2 separate regions of the Homo sapiens genome follow, and region 1 is linked to region 2. The links come from fine-mapping of genetic effects on gene expression. A gene starts in region 2. The other region holds a variant in brackets. All regions are shown on one strand. Distances are between the middles of the regions.

What was found.
Region 1: its variant is fine-mapped to the expression of ZBTB7B in whole blood (INTERVAL, PIP 0.98).

What each region holds. Positions count from the first base shown.
Region 1 is chr1:154,964,878-154,972,877 of GRCh38, forward strand. SHC1 (SHC adaptor protein 1) reads right to left here and starts at 5,870. Exons shown (of 12, transcript NM_001130040.2): 1 at 5,155-5,870; 2 at 4,501-4,571; 3 at 3,894-3,957; 4 at 3,618-3,737; 5 at 3,327-3,380; 6 at 3,103-3,154; 7 at 2,794-2,920; 8 at 1,442-1,640; 9 at 1,285-1,354; 10 at 1,069-1,203; 11 at 666-904. The coding sequence starts at 5,649. RefSeq lists enhancers at 4,647-5,197, 5,198-5,748. The variant C/G (reference allele first, on the strand shown) is at 4,240.
Region 2 is chr1:154,999,293-155,010,276 of GRCh38, forward strand. ZBTB7B (zinc finger and BTB domain containing 7B) reads left to right here and starts at 3,510. Exons shown (of 3, transcript NM_001256455.2): 1 at 3,510-3,651. RefSeq lists enhancers at 89-1,041, 559-618, 5,482-6,154, 8,398-9,112, 10,614-10,984 and silencers at 239-318, 799-1,038, 1,629-1,708, 1,789-2,008, 2,409-2,648 and 4 more.

The sequences.
Region 1 (8,000 bases), 36 kb before region 2:
AACTTGCAGTGTCTAGCCTCTAACCATCTGACATTGGGCATCACAACCTCTTCAGGGTGGTTTCCTTATTTGTCAAAAGAGGGGCACAGATGAGATGACTGCCTTCTAGCTCTGATAAGCTTAAGGCTTGGGGATTTGAGGACGGGCCAGGACTGTATTTGTTTTGTTTTGTTTTTTCAGACAGAGTCTCACTCTGTCACCCAGGCTGGAGTGCAGTGGTGTGATCTCAGCTCATTGCAACCTCTGCATCCCAGATTCAAGCAATTCTCCTGCCTCAGCCTCCTGAGTAGCTGGGACTACAGGTGCCTGCCACCACACCCGGCTAATTTTTGTATTTTTAGTAGAGACAGGGTTTCACCATATTGGTCAGGCTGGTCTCGAACTCCTGACCTCAGGTGATTCACCTGCCTCAGCCTCCCAAAGCGCTGGGATTACAGGTGTGAGCCACCACGCCTGGCCCTGTGCCAGGACTATAAAGAACATAGTTCAGGCTAAGGGATGAGCCTCTGGAGGAAGATGCCAGACACTTTAAAGAGCAAGAGAGGCCCATAGACAGCTGCCCAGCGGGAATGTCTACAAAGCAATGAGGGAAGGAAGAGGGATACACTGTAGGGTACTGTACCTTCCTTTTTGCCACCCCTCACCCACACCTCTGCCACACTCACCACACCCTCAGGGTCCACCAGTAGCAAATGCTTAGGCTGCCCACTCTGCAAGCCAGTGAGCACATACTGGCCAGGTGTGGTCGTGCTCTCCCGTACCAGGAAGTCCCCATTGAGCTGCAGCAGTGCCTCAGCCTCCCGCCGGCTCAGCTTCCCATGGAACCAGGGCTCCCCTCGGAGCTGCTCAGCCATGGACACCGACTGGGGAGGTGGAGGCACGCGAAGAGCATCTTCGAAGGGCTCTGGAAGTATAGAGGGAGGGTGAGGGGAAGTAGCAGGCACAACACACACCCAAGACCCAGACTTCAGGGAAGGGAAGTCAGGAAGGAAAGAGCAGATAGGCAGGAGAAGGGCCAGAACCAAGTAGAAAGGTGGGGATGCAGAGAGGAGAGAGACGAGCACTCACTCATGTCAAACAGGTCCCGGGGTGCACTGCCATTGATAGCAGGATTGGGGGGCCCAGCACCACCCACTGCTTGCCGGGCCTTGTCTAGGTTCTGGACGTTGACATAGGAGGGATCATCAAAAAGCTCTCTGCCTGCTGAGGAAAGGGAGGCTCTACAGTGATCCCAGCCCTGCCTCCAACACTCCCCAGCTCTGCCTATCTCGGCTCCCTTCATACCTGGACAGGGTGGTGGAGGTGGCATCTGTTTGCGGACTTCTGGATCTCCCCCAACAGGCTGTCCTACAGGCTGCAGGGATAAAAATAAGGTGAGACCAGAAGCCCTAACCAACCACTCCCACCCTAGCCCCAGCCCGCCTCCATCCAAGCAACTTACCAATGTAGCTCCCAAGTGGCTGGGGGTCTGGGCATTGGGTGCAGTGGGTCGAGCAGCCCCTGGAGCGGCTCCTTCCCGAAGCCTCATGTCTACCACCCCCCCCAAGGGGGGTTCCTTCCCCGGGAAGTCATTATAGTACTGATGGTCAGGTGGCTCTTCCTCCTCCTCATCCCATGCTGAGCCATCAAAGCCAGCCATCCTGAGGGACAGGACAGTGAAGCTGTGGCTGTAAATGTGTGGTGGGCAGGAGGAGGGAAGGACAGAATAGAACAGCAGCCATCTATTGGGTATTTACTATGGATTAAGCCTGAGGCTGAGTGTTTTATATACATAATCATTTCATTCTCCTGGCAACCCCGTAAGGTAGGTATTGTTTCCTTCCCCACTTTTACAGATGAGGAAAATGAGGGTCAGAGGTGAAAAGATCTGCCCAAGGTCTCACAACTAAAAGGCGGCCGAGCTCAGATTTAAATTCAGGTTTGACTTTAAAGCTCATCCCCTTGGCCAGGTGCAATGGCTCACGCCTATAATCCCAACACTTTCAGAGGCCAAGGAGGGAGGGTTGTTTGAGCCTAGGAGTTCAAGACCAGCCAGGACAACATAGCGAGACCTTATCTCTACCAGAATAAAAATACTACTACTCAGCCAGGTGTGGTGGCATGCACCTGTAGCCCCAGCTACTCAGGAGGCTAAGGTGGGAGGATCACTCAAGCCCAGGATATGGAGGCTACAGTGAGCTGTGATTGTACCACTGAACTCCAGCCTGGGCTACAGAGCAAGACTGTCTCAAATAAGTAATGCTCTTGCTCTTGATCTCTGTGCTATCTCCCAACAAGGAAGGGAAGCACCATGTAGGGGGGTGGGGGGCCGGGGGAGGCACTCCAGCTCCAGAATATTTTAACCTCTCCTAAATATTCAATCCCTACTGGCTCCACTGCTTATCCCTCAAGGCCTGAGGTGGGAAAGGTTGTAATCTCAGGGAAAAGAGATATCCTCCCAAACCCAAATTCTTGATGGCTTCTAGAGGCAGGAAAACACATAATGCCAAGCAGAGAAATGAGCAAGAAAGAGGGATGGGAGTAGAAAATCCCACCTAGCCAGAGAGAGATGTAACTTGGAGGCCCCGGACTACAACTCCACCATGAGCAAACAAGAAAAGCTGGTCCTGCGGCAAGCAGGGCCTCAAAAGTCTTTCCTCCTGGGCCACAGGAAACAGAAGAATAGCAGGAAGTGGGAAGCAGAGGCACACAGGTTATTCCCTCCCTGAACCTCTCAACTCAAGTGTAGGAAGAGCAGCCCTCCTTTCCTAATCCTAATCCAAGAGCTGCTCCACACTCTCCCCACCTGCTCACCTGTCATGAGGGGTGACCAGTTTGGGTGGGTTCCTGAGGTATTGTTTGAAGCGCAACTCGAAGGCCTGGCCAATGGTGCTGATGACATCCTGGGCAAGCCCTTCGGGACACTCCAGAATGTGGCAGGCTGAGGGCACAGCAGAGGCTGTCAGTGAGCTGAGCCCACTGGGAGGAGGCACAGACAGGGGCCCTCATCTTCCTCTGCAGGAACCCCCACTGAGATCTACTTAGAGTGGGTACAGATGACCAAAGGTCCTACTCACCTCCTCAAACAGCCAGACCCACCCAGTGCTCCCCACCATGCCTCACCTCTCTGATTCACAGGGTCTTTGGCAACATAGGCGACATACTCGGCTGTGTCCTGGGGAGGAAGGTCAAAAAATTTTACAGTTCTACTTTACTCCTGACCCCTAAAACCCAGTCCTTTTCAGATATCCCCACAATCCTAGCACCCCCACTTCTCTAATCAATGTCTTCCCAATCCCTAGCCCCTTGCTCTTCTCCCACCGCCTTTGCTCTGTTCCCCAACTCACCGGATCCCCGCCGGATGCAAATGAGATAGATTGCATGTGGTGGTTGGCGATGATCTGAGAATTAGGGCAGGGGATGAAGAAGGAAGGGAATGCCATGTGTCAGGCAGCCTCAGGGCCCAGAACCCTGGTGCCCCAGTCTCATTCTCTGGGTTCCTTATCCCATATCCTCATTTCCTCCTTCCCTACTGGTCTCCTGCTCTCAAGCCCTCTTCCTAGATTTTGGCCTCCTAACTAGATCTCCCCTTAGCACCCCCATCAGTGTTTCTGGTCCGTCTGCCCACCTTCACCAACCTGTTTGCAGTCTGCGGCCATGAGGTTGAGGCTGCTGGTGGAGACGGTGAGAGTGATTGGCATTCCAGCAAATTTCAGGTTACTCCTCCCCAGGATAGAGCTGAGCGGGCGGCTACAGGGCTAAGGTAGGGCCCAGGGTCTCAGAAGGTGAGGGTTCCCAGCACAGGCAAACCACACTTTTGCCTCCTGGCCCTCTCCCCACATGCCCCACACTTGCCTCCCCACTGCCCCTCCACATTTCCCAGCAGCATCCCTATCCCCAAGGACCCCAAGTACCTTTCTCCTCCTTGTCGCCCCCTTAGCACCCGGCACAGCCTCACACACCAGACTGATGGCCTCCCTGGGGAAAGAGGGGTACTCAGACCCAGCGCCTGCCTGCCTGCCTCCCACTCAACTGGGGCTGCCACAGGGCTGGGGGAGGGGAAAGCCAGGCCAGACTCCCAGGGCACTCCAGGCTCTTTGTCATGGTGGATTGAATTAAGGGCCTTTAATATTTGATGACACTGAGAGGCCACTTCCTGGCTGATTGGGTTAGGGCCTCAATGGGTATAGCCCCACCCCCTTCCAGCTACCAAATGTCCCATTCCCTTCCCAAAGGCAGCAGCAACCTTCCATCTACCCC[C/G]CTTTTCTACTCCAGCTCCACCTGCCAGCTGCTTCTGCCACCTTCCCCACAACTCCCAAGGCTGGATAGGTAAGGAGGATCCGGGCCAAAGGGGCCTCCTTTCAGTAAGAGGCGGAATCACTACCTCAGCTTTCTCTCAATCCCCTTTACTACGCAAAGATCAGCCCCCAGCAGCAGCACCCAAGTGACCCACTCCCCTCCTCTGTTTCCCATGGCCTCACTAATCCCAGGACTCCCACAATCCACTCCCTCCCCACTAACCTGGTGACCTGAGTCCGGGTGTTGAAGTCCAGGGCACGCATTGACTGGAGGACCTCCACACAACCCATGTACTAAGGGGAGGGAGAAGAGGACAGCAGGTCAGCGGCTCCCCCACCCCAGCCCCTTCACAAAGGGCCCTAGGACTTTACCCATATGGTCCCTAAGGGAAGTAAAGAGGAAGAAGTTCTGCCCACTTCCCGTGGCTACATCCCACAACCAAGGTGAAAGACAACAGGGAATGAGGAGAAAAAGAAAAGGCAGGCTAGAAGGACCTCACACACTGGGGAGAGAGTTTGGAGGGGACCGACAGGCATTGGCTGGGATGGAGTGACAACTCCAGAAAGCGGGAGGAGAATGGAGGAAAGATCAAGAAGTCATTCATTCCAACACTTATTAAGAGCTTCTGCCATGCTGGGCATTGTGCTAAGCATGCCAGGGTGGGGGTGGGGGAGTGAAAAGAAGGAAGGGGGCCCAGGCAAAGCTGGAAGGGAAGGGGCTACAGAATCGGGGAAGGGATGAGAAAGGTTTAGGAAATAGGACACTGAAACGGGGTTGTTGGGGAACAGCAGGAAAAAAGAGATTCCGGCCAAGCTGGAGTGAGCATTAGAACTGGAGGGGGTCTGCGGGGGAATGGAGAGGAGGATGTTCACTCACCCGAACCAAGTAGGAAACCCCGGGTCCCATGACTTTGTCGTTGGGATGCAGCCAGCCCCGCGTGGGCTTATTGACAAAGCTCCCGTGGCGGGTCCACTCCTCGCCCCCAAGCTGGCCCCCTTCCACCCGAGTCCTGCGCCCGCCGCCTCCACTCAGCTTGTTCATGTCCTGGAGGAGGGGTAGGGGGCCTGAGTCTGGCATGGCTGCCCCTACGATCCCCTCCCCATCATCAGCTGCCCTTCCTGGCTCCCCCTTAGACCCTGGGCGCCCCCCAGCCGGGTTGGCCAGCCTCAGGTTGCTCATCCGGGGGAAGAAGGAGCACAGGGTAGTGGGACTATCGTCCCCAGGCAGAGGAGGCAGGATGGGCCCCAGGGATGAAGCTGATGGGGAAGGCAGCTCCTCCGGGGGGGTGGACCCAGAAGCCCCTTCCTCCAGCGATGACAGAGACTCATTCCGGAGTGGATTGTACTTGGGCTTGGGGGGCAGGAGATCCATAGTTGAGGTGAAAGAGGGGCTGCTGCCCAGCCTGGCCCCCCTGCCAGTTTGGGCAAGGGGGCCAGGCAGGGGGTATCCCCAGGCCCTTAGCCTGGTTGGACCTCTGTGGCCCAGGAGTCACAGAAGTCCTGGGGAGGGAGAGGGACAAGTGGCTTCCGCTCCCCAGCTCAGACCCAGACAGTTTCAGGCCCCATCCCCGCCCAACGTGGAGCCTCTTCTCTGGCTGAGAAGAGAACAGGCTGGACCCAGCGCTTCTGGCTCCTCCCCAGGGGCGGGGAGCTAAGGGGAGAGACCAATCGTGAGGACAGTGCTGACTCACAGGCTCAGAGGGGCTGAGCCCCCACCCCGCCCCAACCTCGAACTGGAGCAGGGGGTAGGGCTATCCAAGCCCCTCTCCCCTGCCCTATACAAACAACTAGTAATCTGGGGAGAAGTAAAGTGGGGGTGGGAGGGAAGGATGGAAGAGTGGGACGGAAAGGAAGGAGATAGGAGGTCTGGGTCACTCAAAACCGGACACACGCAGGCCAAAGGGGGCAGGAAGCCAGGCAGGAGTACAGGGGAATGAGGGAGGAAACAGAGGCAGCTGGGGGTGGAAAAGGGAGGAGATCTCAGAGCTCAGCATTTCCCTTCCTGTCCTGGTTGGACACTCGAATTCCCCCACCCTCTCTATGCCCGAAAGCTGGCTGGCCCCAGCCCAGGCCACCCCCAACCGCTACCCCATACAGTAAGCCTGGGCCATTAGCATCCTCTGCTACAGCAGCTGTGGACTGGAGCTAGCGAAGTGGGGATGGGAAGTAAGTGGTCCCAATGGATGCAGAGCAGGGCCAAGAGGAAGAGCAAAGCTGGTGAAAAAAGGGGAATAAAGTTCAACCTGGATGATACATCAGGAAGCTACCAGGCAAGAAGGGAACAAGAGGACATGCTGGTCACGGCTTGTTCTCTACGTATGCCATCTACCACACCAAGACCGATGGCTCATAGCCAAGCACTGTCCTGTCTCCCCTTTCCACAGGGCTTGTTAACACAGCACACTGTCAAGGGTGAGAATGAGGCAATCAGGTCCCCACTCCCACTCCAAACCACCCCAATTCACATCCCTCCTCTTACAGGGCCCTAAGCCCCACCAAAGAGCACAGCATCCTTCACACCAGGGAAGGAGCCTGGCTGGAGGAGGTGGAAGAAACAGTTCTCCAAGAGAAGTAGAAACTACAGGCCAGGAAGGGACAGAGAGATCAGAAGACACATCTGCGTCAATAAGGACAGGAGAAAAATAAGTACAGGAGAAAGGGGTGTCAGGAGAAGATGGGTTGAAGCTGGACACAGGGAACAGTCCCAAACCCATTCCTGCCACCCACGGCTTCCTGCCACTGCTCTTCCGGAGAATGCCACAGGCAAAGCTGGAAAGTGACCAAAAAAAAAAAAACAAAGATACGTATTCCTACCGGGCGCGGTGGCTCACACCTGTGATACCAGCACTTTGGGAGGCTGAGGCGGGTGGATCACCTGAAGTCAGGAGTTCGAGACCAGCCTGGTCAACATGGTGAAACCCTGTCTCTACTAAAAATACAAAAATTAGCTGGGCGTGGTGGCGGGCACCTGTAATCCCAGCTCAGGAGGCTGAGGCAGGAGAATCGCTCGAACCCAGGAGGCGGAGGTTGCAGTGAGCCGAGATCGAGCCATTGCACTCCAGCCTAGGTGACAAGAGCAAAACTCCGTCTCAAAAAAAAAAAAATACGTATTCCCCCCAGCTCACCTTGGAATTACCCTTAGATTTACTTCAGAGAATTAAAATATAGATAGATAATTATCCTGATTAACAACATTAACACTTGAAGTGTGTTAGATGCTGTGCTTAACTCTTACATCTCCCCTTAGTGCTCATTCCAGAAGAGCTTTGTCACTCTGCCAGCCAATCCTGAGAAGGAATTTTATCACTTCATTTCCAGCCAGCTCTCGGGCATAGAGAGAATGAGGAAAGGATTCCACCATAGCCTCACACCCCCAAAACACACAAACACACACTAGGATGTCCCTCATCTGTAGAGATGATGTTCTGTGGGAGCCTACAGTATCCAGAGCCAGGGAAGGACCAACGGGTGTGGGCGTTCGGAAGAAAAGAAAGACGTATGACTCTTGAAATTTACATAGGGAGAAAGGAGATTGCCTACTGGAAGTCCAGGTGATTGGGTGTAGGGGAAAAGCTGTGTGTGGCTTCGCAGCCCAACTGGGAGGAGGGGACAGGGGCGGGAAGTGGCAGGAAATGGCGAAAGCCTCAGGAATGTTTCCAGCAGGGAAGGCTGGGCAAACGGGGCCAGGAGGAATGCCCAGACAAGAACTCTGGTTAGGGGGAG
Region 2 (10,984 bases):
ATCGGAAGGAGGCTGAGTGCAGAGGGGTTGTCTTGCCTTCTCTGGGACGTGGAGTTTTGGAAACTGTTCCCCTGAGCTTCCTGAAGCTAAATTTGCCTCCCCCGGCCTTGGGGGGCGCAGAGATCCCGGCGGCGATTAGCGCTGCGCGGCAGCCGGCTCCAACCCAGAGGCCCGGAATAGGCGCGGAGTTATAAATAGTGCCACCCGCAGGTGTTGGGGGGAGTCGGCGGGAGGGGGGTACCCCTGGCGGCCACGGCCCCTTCAGGTGGGTTGGGCGGTCGCGGTGGGAGCGCTGGGGGGCGGGGGGCGTGGGGGGTCTGCGGTCTGAGCGCCCCCAGCGGTTTCCTGGGCGGCGGGTTTTTCGAGGGAAGCGGAGGCAGCGGAGGATGGGGGGGAGCAGCGGAGAAGAGGTGGGCGCCTGGCGCATGCTGACGCTCCGCTTGCAGCTCAGCCCCCCACATTCCGAAACAGGCCCCCAGACCCACTCACGCAGGACCCCGCCCAGGCAAAGCCTCGCCTTTCTTAACACCTGAAGGCCTCATTCCCCCAGGTTCTGCAAGCATCTAACTTCTATGCTTCTACCCTTCGGCGCACGTGGCCCGGCCAGTCCGCGCACCTGGCCGTCATTCCGAGTCGCTGTCCCCAGCCCCAGGTATTCAGTCCTCCCACTCGGGGCTTTCATTCCTCTCTTAGGGTAAACACTTCCTTCTCTGGGTATTTGTCCAACTCGTGCTACTCTCCCCAAATTTAAGGTCTAGCTGGTCACCTAAAAATTTAAGTCTTAACATGCGGATCTGGGACGCTCTCCTATCCCCAGGCGGCCCCTGCAGGCCCCTCACTTGCCCTCCAGCTCCCAGTTCCAGTCTGGGCCTAGTGGCGGGGCGGGGGCGGCCGGCCCCTGGGGCCCAGCAGGGGTTTCATGGGAGGGGGCGGGGTCCCCAGTCAGCGTTTCTCTGCCGCCGCTGTTTCAGTCGTTTGGCGTGGTTAGGGGTTGGGGTAAGAGGGAATTTCAAGTAGGGGTTCCCCGCTCCGATTTCTGAGTAAGGAGGGGAGCTATTTGCACCAGGAGAAAAAGAGAGACAAGGGAGGGTGGGCGTCACTGAGGAACTAACTGCGGGTTCCAGGACCATTGGGAATGAGGTGAGGAGTGGCAATCTAGCCGCAGAAAGATCAGTCATGTTCAGCCAGACGCAGAACGCGACCCTCAAACATGGGGGAAGTTGGGCGAGGCGAGCCTGAGGCACTGGGCACCTTTCGAGTTTCTGTACCCAAAGGCTGGTGCCAGGGAGCCCGCCCTTCTATTGCCTCTGGAAGCCCTGGCTCTGCCCTCCCCGGGCCACGTTCCCACCCCCCCCGCCCCCCGCCCCCTGCCCCCCGCCCCCTTTCCTTGGCTATCCTCCTTCCTCCCCAAAGCAGCCCCCTCTCCATTTCACTTGTGGCACTGCCGCCTAGCCCCTAGCACAGCCCTTCACCAGGCCTGCACGACCCAGACGGCTGGAGTAGGAAGGGGAAAACCCCGGCCTGGACGGCTCCGGGCCCCTCCGGACCAGGATCTGTCCGGCGGGGCTGAGAAGAAAACCCGGAGCAGTGATCAGCCTCGCGACCCAAGGGGGTCAGGGACGATAGGAAAACCCGGAGCGGATTACTCGAGCCAGAGCGCCCCATGCCTGCCGCTACCTCCTCCTTCCTATAGCCCCCCTAATTCTCCAGTGAGATAATGTCTGGGGTGGGGGGCTGTTTGGTTTGGCCTGAGCCCTCAGGGGCGCCTCACACTTTCCGCCCCTGGCTGGGGCGCAGGGCAGCGGCCCCGAGGCTGAGTCACGGCCCGGCGCGGAGAGGGAGAGAGGGAGAAAGAGGGAGGGAGGGACCTGGACTCCGCCCCTCGTGCGCGGGGATCCCGGGTCAGCCCGGGTGAGGGCCAGGGCCCCCCTGGCGCCGCCCATTGTGGTCCAACAGGTTGAGCTGGTGTCCCGAGAAGCCACCTGCTGGAAAGGGAGGGAGGCCCCCTGCGGAGGGGGGTTGGGAGGGGAAAGCGAGTCCGACCCGGTTCGGCCTGGCTTGTCGCAGGGGAGCCAAACCTGGCCCTAGGTAGCCGGATTTGATTCCATTTGACACTAGTGGGAGGGGCCCTTTGGGGTACGCAGCTCCGCAGGCTCAGTCAGAAACATCCTTCACCCGCTACCTTTCTCAGTTGGGGGACTCCTAAGTATTTATCCCGGTCCTCCCCAAAACCTACACATACCACACATCCCAAAACATCCAGGCACCCCTCGCCACCTGGGTCTCTCAGCGAATTCATGTCAAGCTATCCCTCCTCGGTGGAGACTCAGTTTCTCCACTTAGGGAACCCGCGGGATGGAGGTGGGGAGCAAAAGCGTCGGCGCGCCCCCTCCCCCTTCGCAGACTGGGCCCCTCCCCTCCGACAATGCCAAGGCCGCAGCGGGCACTGGCGACAGCACAGAGGCTGCTTGCCTGGGGCGCCCTTCCCTCCCCGCGGGGCACCGTCACGCGTGGGGAGGGACGCAGGGCGCCCGCAGGCTCAACTCCCCGGCTCCCTCCGAGAGGGGGTGGGGCGTAGGGGCCGGAGCCGAAGGCCTGGTGGCTCCCCCTCCCCCTCCCTTCTAGGTCCCTGACCTGATTACAGCCCCTCACGGGACCCCCTCCCTCAAGACCCTAAGTCCCCAATTCACCCCCACCCAGCCTATCCCTAACCTCTCATACCCTTCCCTCCTGAGGTCCTGACCCTACAGAAGCCCCTCTTGAAGGAGAGGGAGCCCCTGTAGGGGGTGCTCGATTCCCTGGCCGCTGCGGACACTGCCCCCTCCCCCCTCCTCTCCAGGTTCCAGGCCAGCCCCTCGGCTCCGCCCCCTCCCTGGACGAACGCAAGGCGAGACCTACTGGAGATGAGCGGGTATTCAGGCCAATGAGCGGACAGGGCGGTGGCGTGCAGGGGGCGGGCAGAGCAGCAGCAAAGGGCTGGATGGGGGCCGGGGGCGGAGTTTGAGTTAAGGTGGACTGGGAGAGATAGGGGCAGGAGAAAGGGGGGGGAGAGAGGGACCGCGGCAGGTGAAGGGAGACAGAGAGAAGGAAAGAAGGAGGGAAAGGAGGAGGGTGGGAAAGGCTAGGAGAGCTAAGTAAGAGTTTGGAGAAGGGGGCAAAAAAGGAGGGAGGGACCCATCTGCGCTCTGCAGGGACTGGCTGGACGAAGGGGTTGAAGTTTATGTCCTTATTGGGCGGAGGGAGGGGGCCTGGGGGGGCGGGTGAAAAACCAGGAAGTGACAGAGGGTGTTTCTAAGTGTTGGGGGGGGGGAGTTTGGGGGGTGGCAGGGGCGGGGGGAGGGAGGGGAGGGATGGGGGGAAAGCAAGCTGGAGGACAGGTGAGACAGCAGGACAGGTGAGGCGGGCCCTGAGGGGGGGGCGGGTGGGAGCCAGGTGAATGTACGGCTCTTGGCGGCCGAGGGGGGGCGGGCGGCAGGAGGAGGCAGAGGGCGGCGGAGGAGGAGCCCCCCAGCAGCGAGCGGCGAGCAACTGACCGCGGCCTTCTGACCAGGACCGGAGCAGGGCCCCAAGCCCCCGGGCCTGGTGGGGGACGCGCTTCTTCCCACACTGTGAGCCTCAGCAGCTCCAGCCAGCGGACCCGACGGCTGAGAGGTGAGTGTACCCCACTTTTGTCTCCTGGCTCGGGGTTCACTAGGCTCGAGACTACTGCAGTGTCCTTCGTCCGTCCTGTAAGTGGGACCCCCAGATACACACGCATGCAGATCACATTCCCACCACTCCCCTTCCCTGTGCTTTCCCAACACCCCGGGTCTCTGGAATTGGTTTTAACTGAGATGAAAGACAGAGAAGGAACTGCGGATGCCCCCCAACCCTAGGCGGAGGGTCCCCAGAAAGTTTATCTGCACTTCTCCTGGGATCAGACAGACAGACGGCTTCGGGATGGAGAGGGGGTGAGGCGACGCTGAGCGTTCCCCCAGTCTCCTTCGTGACTTTAGGGGGAGACCCCAGACCGGACTGAGTTGAGGGAATGGAAACGCTGACGGACTCTAACTAGGACAACGCGCACCCCCCCCCCACCCCGCGCCCCCTGGCGCGGTGGATTGGCCCCAGGCCAGTTGCATGGGGGTTGGGGGGGCGCAGGAGGAGCCGCGGCTTGGGGGAAAGTTACCGGCTGGACTATTCGGTTTCTTGCGCTTCCAGAGCCGCGCTCTCTCCAGCGGTAGTGGGGCTCAGCAACAACCTCTGAACCGACATAGAACGACCGCTCTCTTCCCTGCCCCTCAATCCCACTCCCTTCCTTCAGGCTCCAGTCCCGCCGCTACCTTTTCCACGCCAGCTCATGACCACAGAACCCAAGAGCGAGGGCGGGTGACTAGGAAGAATTCTCCTACCTACTACCCGTCCCCCCACCGGCGCCGGCGCACCTGCCCCAGCCCAGAGTGGGGGTCGCTACTGTGTTGTTGTAGAACCTACAGAGTGCGCCTGGCAGAAGGCTGCCATTCAAAGGGGTGGGGGGCGCTGCTTTCAATTTCCAGCTTTCTCTCCCTCCTCCCACCCCATCCCAAGTAAGAGAGCGACGTGTCCCGGCCAGAGCGAGGTGGGGGCGGGAGTGGGGGGGCGGCGTGGGCAGCGGGTTGTGCCCGGACACGTGCCTGCCCAGGCGCCCCGGCCCTGCTGGTGTTTAGAGAGAGGGCGGGTCCCCTGCCCCCCGCCCCGCACAACCCCCACGTATCAAAGGGCGGCTGAGACATGGTGAGACCTCGGGGCGCCCTGGGGGGCAGGGGGGCGGGGAGCCTGGGTCCGGAGCAGGGGAGGGGCAGAGGCGCCGGTGCTAGCTGACCCACAGGAAACGAGCGCTGCTGACCTAGTTTGGGACACCGGAAGTGGGTGCTGGGGAGAGGGGGAGACCGGCAGGCTGTCCAGGCTTCCGGGCCAGGTGGAGGGTGTTCTTGAATTGACCCCCGCCCGAATGCCTTGGAGACCCCTAGCTGCAGCCGAGAATGGGAATGAGTCAGCGCAGCTATTCCCCCTTCCCCCAACTTATTCCTGGAGGAGGGAGACCGCTTATCAGGGACGGGGGAACCAGATTGGGCTGTGAGGGGTTAAAGCAGGATGGGAACTGTCTGGTCCCTAAGGGAGTATGTGTGAGTGTGGGGATGAGGCCTGGAGGATTATGGGGTTGCCTCCTGCTGCCCCACACACACCAACTGGTTTGGTCACCCCTGTACCCGCCTGGCACTGCTGGGAGAGCTGGCATGGAGTGGACATCAGGTTGGGGAGGAGAGAGTGGGCATAAGGAGTGTTGTGCTGCGCTAGAGAGGGACATATGTGTGACTATGTCTGGATGATAGTTAGTGTTCCTCCTTAGTGGTAACTGGGGAGAAGGGTAGGGGGCTCCCCCTGGAGCAGCTGATGAAACAAGGAGAAATCTCTGTCAGTGCCTCTGTCCCTGGCCCCAGGGACCCCAGCTCCCCCAGCGTGCCTCTGTTACATGGTTGCTGTGGGCACAACACAACCTGCTGGCACCCCCAGACACTGTCCCCTCCCTTGGGTACCACACACCCCCAGCCCTGGCACAGGGGTCAAAAAGGGGTTAATACCACCAGAATGGGGCTCTGGGGAAGAAAGAAGGCAGTGCCCACTAGGCTCAGGTGTCAAGGAGACAGGCTTGCTCTAATGGGACTCTCATCACTACTCAGTTCTGGCTGATGTAGACCCCAGTGTCTGGAAGACAGGTGCTGTCCCCTTCTTCTTCCCCATGGTGCCCCCTGGCACCCAGGGCCCCCAGCTCCTCCTTGGCCTAGTGCCTGCCCAGGGAGGGTGCGGCGGGCAGCGGGGGCTGGGCTAACAATGCACCATCAGGCCCTTTGTGTGCCTGCACTTGGCACCCTGGGGAAGGGTGGGGGAGGGGGCCCAGCAGGCATGGGGGGCGGAGCGCTCTGGGGTGGGGACAGTGAAGGCTGGGGGAGAGAAGCAAATGAAAGCAGGTGGGGAGGAAAGGGAAGTAGGTCAGATAGGGTGCCAGCCCCCCATTCCAAGCCAAGGCTGAGAGAACCAGCCCCTGATCCTATGGCTGCCTGGATGGCATCAGACTGAGGGACAGCCTAGGACTGGGCATTTGGGGTCAGAAGTCACTGCCCAGGGGACTGCTCAGATGGAGAAGGTTTGGCCTGGTACTGCCCCCTTCTTAATGGCTGAGAGACCCAATTCTTCTGGCCCAAGACCAAGGCCCCAAGATGAGTAGTGAATGGGCTCCAGGCAGGGCACTGCCCTCTGACAGAAGCCTCTGGGCCTGCTGCGGGGCTTCCTGCCTCTGCCCCGCTTGGCTCCCTGACCTTCCTGAGAGTTAAGACTGCCCTGACACCAGGCCTTAGGGCCTATGCCTGTTTTGGCCTAGGGCGGGAGAGAACAGTGGGGGAGGAAGGTGGGGACAGGCAGATGGATAGGACCCTGGCATGGGGTGTGCCCGCCCTGGCCTCTTCCCCCTCCTTGTGCTGAGTAAACTCGTGAGTAAACTTGACGTTTTGCCCGGACAGTTTGAAGTTGCCTCGCTGCCCCCTCCCCCCCACTCTTGCCAACACAGAAGCGGCCAGGCGCCAAGGCGGGCCCGGGGGACTGGGAGGAAGGGGATAGAGCTGCTGTCATCCACCATCAAGTGTTTGGTGGGGTGGGGACAAGAAAGACCCCCACACCCAGCCAGGCCTAGGTCTTGGCAAGAGTCTTGGCTGGGGCCTGCCAGCATCTGTCCCAGAGCCCTGGGGAGCCCAGGAAAAGTGGCTTCAAAGCAGGTCCTCTGCCCACTTCTGACTTCCACCTCTACTAGGGAAAGGCACCCAGCTACCACCTGGCCCCCTGAGTTGCCATCTTTAATATTCACTGGCACAGGGACAAAGCTACCTTTAACAAATTCCCCAGGGAGACCAGAGAGGGCTGCCCTCTTCATCCTGTCCCATAGTTTGGGATGGACATCTTAGCCCTCTCTTCCCTGAGGCCTCCAGATGCCATGGTTCTGCTATGGAGGATAGCATTCTCATTTGCCAGCACTTGCCCTGACCACACCTGGGCCTAACCCCACATATACCTCTACCATATTCACCATCAGGCCTAGCCCTGATCTCCCCAAACCCCTTCCTTTGCCTGCTATCTTCCCCAGAACCAGGTCAGCCTTCAGAGCTTCCCAGTCAGCAAATACCTGTGCCAGATTCAGGGGTCGAAGGTGCCCCAGGCAAAAGAGGGCTGATGGCAGGCAAATGAAACAGTGATCCCCCATAAATATGTCAATTTGCTATCTTTTGACATCACTGATCCTCTTCTTCCTCCCAGGCCAACAGAATGACATGGGGAAATGCCATCCCAGTCCCTGACAGGCCTCAGAGTGGGGCTCCCCCAGGCCCTTACTTTCGACCTCATGTCTCTGGCTTCAGTTTCCTTCCTGTTTCCACCGTCCCCCCAACTCCTCCCCACCCATATGCCCCTTTCAACAGACATCCTCTCCTCCTTCCTTCCTCCTTTCCTCCCCCTTTGCCTGGGAGCAGGGGTCCTCTTTCCTCCACCATGGACATCCTAGCCTTTTACCTCTTCTTAAACCTAGCCCCCTTGGAGATTCATGACCAAGTCATCTGCCCTTCTCACCCATCAGCAAGGCTCTGGGGAAGAGGAGAACCCAGAGCTTCTCAAGGGGGACTACAACTCCCAAGGTACATACAAAGCAATTGTGGTGCACACTGGGAGTTGTAGTCCTTGAGCTCTCAATTTGGCTGAGTCTGGAAGTGTTTCTGGATGAAGGTGAAAGTCAGAACTGGGATGGGTTGGAATGTGGGTACCCTCTGCATCCCCCCACTTTATTCTTGCTATCGCATTGCCATGGGATGCTGTGTACCTATGATTGACATCCATCTCCCTTGCTGAGACATGCTACCTGTCCTCACCTTAGGGCCCCACCCAAAAGATGCCCACACCCTGCCCTGCTGCCCCTGGCAGGGGTGAAACAGAGGGGCCCCATGAACTCCCTCCCTGCCCCCTGCCCTCTAGGCTGGTTCCCTCCCTTTATGGGGATCAAAGGGCAGAGAGCAGCCCCACCCCACTCCCTTGCAGGCTGCAGGCACTAGGGCTCTCAGGAATTGCAGGGACTTTGGTGCCCAAGCAAATGCTTGGGCAGGGGGAATGCCGGGAGGTTGGCACCTGGTGGTAGGGAGAGACACTGGCCCCCACCCTGGGGTGTGGAGCCTTCATTAACTACTCACAGGGCTGTCCATTGCCTCCTAGGCTCTCTCTGTGTAGGCCCTGACCAGTGTGCTACCTCTTGAGGAGGTGGTTTGAGAACAGGGTCTTAGGCCTTATCTGTAAGGCCTAGGGGCCTGGGCCCGTCTGGCTGGCACCAAGGCACAGGGTGACCCTCCCCCACCTCAGGCCCACAGTTGGCATGGGGCGCTGGGAGCAGGGGGGTAGGAGGGAGAGGAGGGCAGGACTGCCAGCATCCTGGTGGGTAGGTGCCAACCGGGCCGGGAGCTGGTGAGGGGCAGCAGGCCAGCGGCATTGAGCCAGCAGCTGTTGGGGGAAAGGGGAGGGGATATTTTAGGGGGCATTTCTATGGTACCCCCAAGCCTAGCAGGATTTGGGATGGCCTAGTGTCTGGGGGTCACTAGGGCACCCCTCATTCCAGGAATAAGGGACCCCAGGAGTTGTTTAAGTGAAATTTGGTGGCCCATCCATGTCTGGGCTCAGAGCTCTCCTGAGTTGCCCCTCAGGCCCAGGCGGGTCCCACCCAACCGGCCAGGGTGGCAGCAGCTTGCGCAAGGGGTGGGGCTAGGCGCTTCCCAGCAGATGCCCCCTCCCAGCTCCTTCCTCTTTCGGTGCCCACAGCTCCCCCAATCTGTCTATCCCCCTCAGGCCAGCTCTGTTCCCCCTGATCCCCCTGGCTATTGGGGGCTGGCATGAGTGCTGCCCCCTGGCCTGGTTGGCAGGGGTTGGCACCCGGGCAAGGAACTGTGGTATGTGAGTGGGTTTGGGGTGAGGCTATGGGGAGGGCGGGGTGCCGCCTTGCCCAGCCCCTGAGGGCCCCAGCCCAGTACAGGGTAGGGAGAATTCGGCCAGCTCCCAGGGGGACTGAGGAGCTTGCTGGGGTCTAGAGGGCTTCCTTGTGGTCCCCATCCCACATACTCTGAGGGGCTGGGACCCAGGCACCTGTCACCCCTGGCACTGACTGTCCAGGGTTCCCCTCCTCCCTCTTCTAGCCACAGCTGCCTCCGTCCCCTCCCCTCCCTTCTTCCTTCTCCTGGTCCCACCTCCAGTAGCCTCTCCCATTGCTCCTCCTCATCTCTGTCCTCCTGGACTGTCCCAGCTCCTACCTTTCCTACCCCTCACCTTTTTCCTCTTTTAGGACTGAGTAAGGACAGGAGTGGGTGGGTTCTGCTGGGGCTTCAGGCACCACAGGCAGAGACTCTGGGCCCTCTCCCACGCCGCCAGCCCTCCGGTAACCCCTCCCTCCAAGCTGGGGGGAGGGGGGACAGCACCCAGAGGGTTAAGGCTGTAGGGGGGAGGGGCTGGGCCAGGTCGTGGGCGGCCCCTTTGAAGGAGGGAGCTGGAGCGGGGAACAGCCACCCTACCTCCCCCCAAGCCTGGCCCTCCCCCACCTGTCCCAACCTGCTGCCCCCAGGGGCCAGGAGGAGTTGCCGCCAGGCCCCTCAGCGTTCAGGTGAGTAGGCCCTGCTCTGGCTTGGGAGATCAGGCCCCAGGGGGGCTTGGAGGCCTAGAATTAGCCAAGGGTCAGAGGACTGAAAAACAGGTCAGGAAGAGGGTGCCCAGACTTCACAAGAGAGTTTAGGGAACTGAGGGCTTGAGAAGCGGGAATGTGGGGAGGCCTCAGTGTTTAAGGGGACCCGAGCAGATCAGGAGAGGCAGAAGAGGGGCCTATAGGGACTGAGTGATTGCTGGGCCAGGCCAGGAGGCTGGACAGGCTGGCAGAGAGCCGGGCTCCGGAGATCGGGCTGGGGTGTCCTCTGGGGCTGGGGGGCTCAGGTTTCTGCTGGCGGCTTGGCGGGTGTGGGGTTACCAGCCAGCTCGGTTACCCAGCCGGAGACACTAGGCTGGGGGGGAGGGGGTGGGCACAGGGCAGACCCTGGCACCTTGTGCGGTCTCCTCAGGCCCTAAGGGGAGCTGGCACTGTCCAGGCAGACCCTGCTGAGAATCCTGATGGCCAGAGTCTGTCCAAGTGGACAATTGCCTGGTCCAGGGTGGGCACCCTCCGGGGAAAGTCCAGCAGCTCCAGGGCTGGAAACTCTGACGGGCAGAGAGGCACAGGTTGTCCCCCCACCCCCACCCCACATCCGCTCTCGCTGCAAACCCCCCTCCACCACTCATTCTCCCCAACTGGCTCCCAAATTGTGGTCCCCTGCTTCATCCAAAAGTGGGGTGTGGGTGCCCTAAACTCAACCATCTTTTGGCAAGACCAGGCATTGGAAGGCAGGCCTGGTCCCTGATTTAATTCCTCTGCGGCTCTCCACCCCTCATATGCCTGGGAAGAAGGGAATGGATGGTTGGAGCAGGGGGCCAATGGAGAAAGTGGAGAAGTTTGAGCAAGAGAGAACCAAGGGGAAGAGAAAGGAGAGGCAGGGACAGTTCCTGGGAGGAGGCCTAGGGACACTGATGGGGTGGAGAGGATGCGGAGTTCAGGGAGGGCTGAAGGAAGGAAAGCAAAGGGTGGACTTGTGGAGGGAAGACAAGGGTCGGAGGAGGCAATGAGGGGACAGAACCAGGAGGCCAAGAGAGGGGCAAGAGTGAGGGCTGGATGATGGCAGGGAATACCCAAAGGTGGCGGCGCTAAGGCTGAGAGAGTTGCCCCCATTCCTTCCTCCGCCATCTTTTATCTTCCTCATATTTCCCTTGATGGGGACTAAGGGGCTATGGGCAAGGGCTGGTGTCATGGAAAGAAAATGTAGGGAAGCATTAAGGTCTCCCTCATTTCAGGAGCCCCAGAACCAGGACT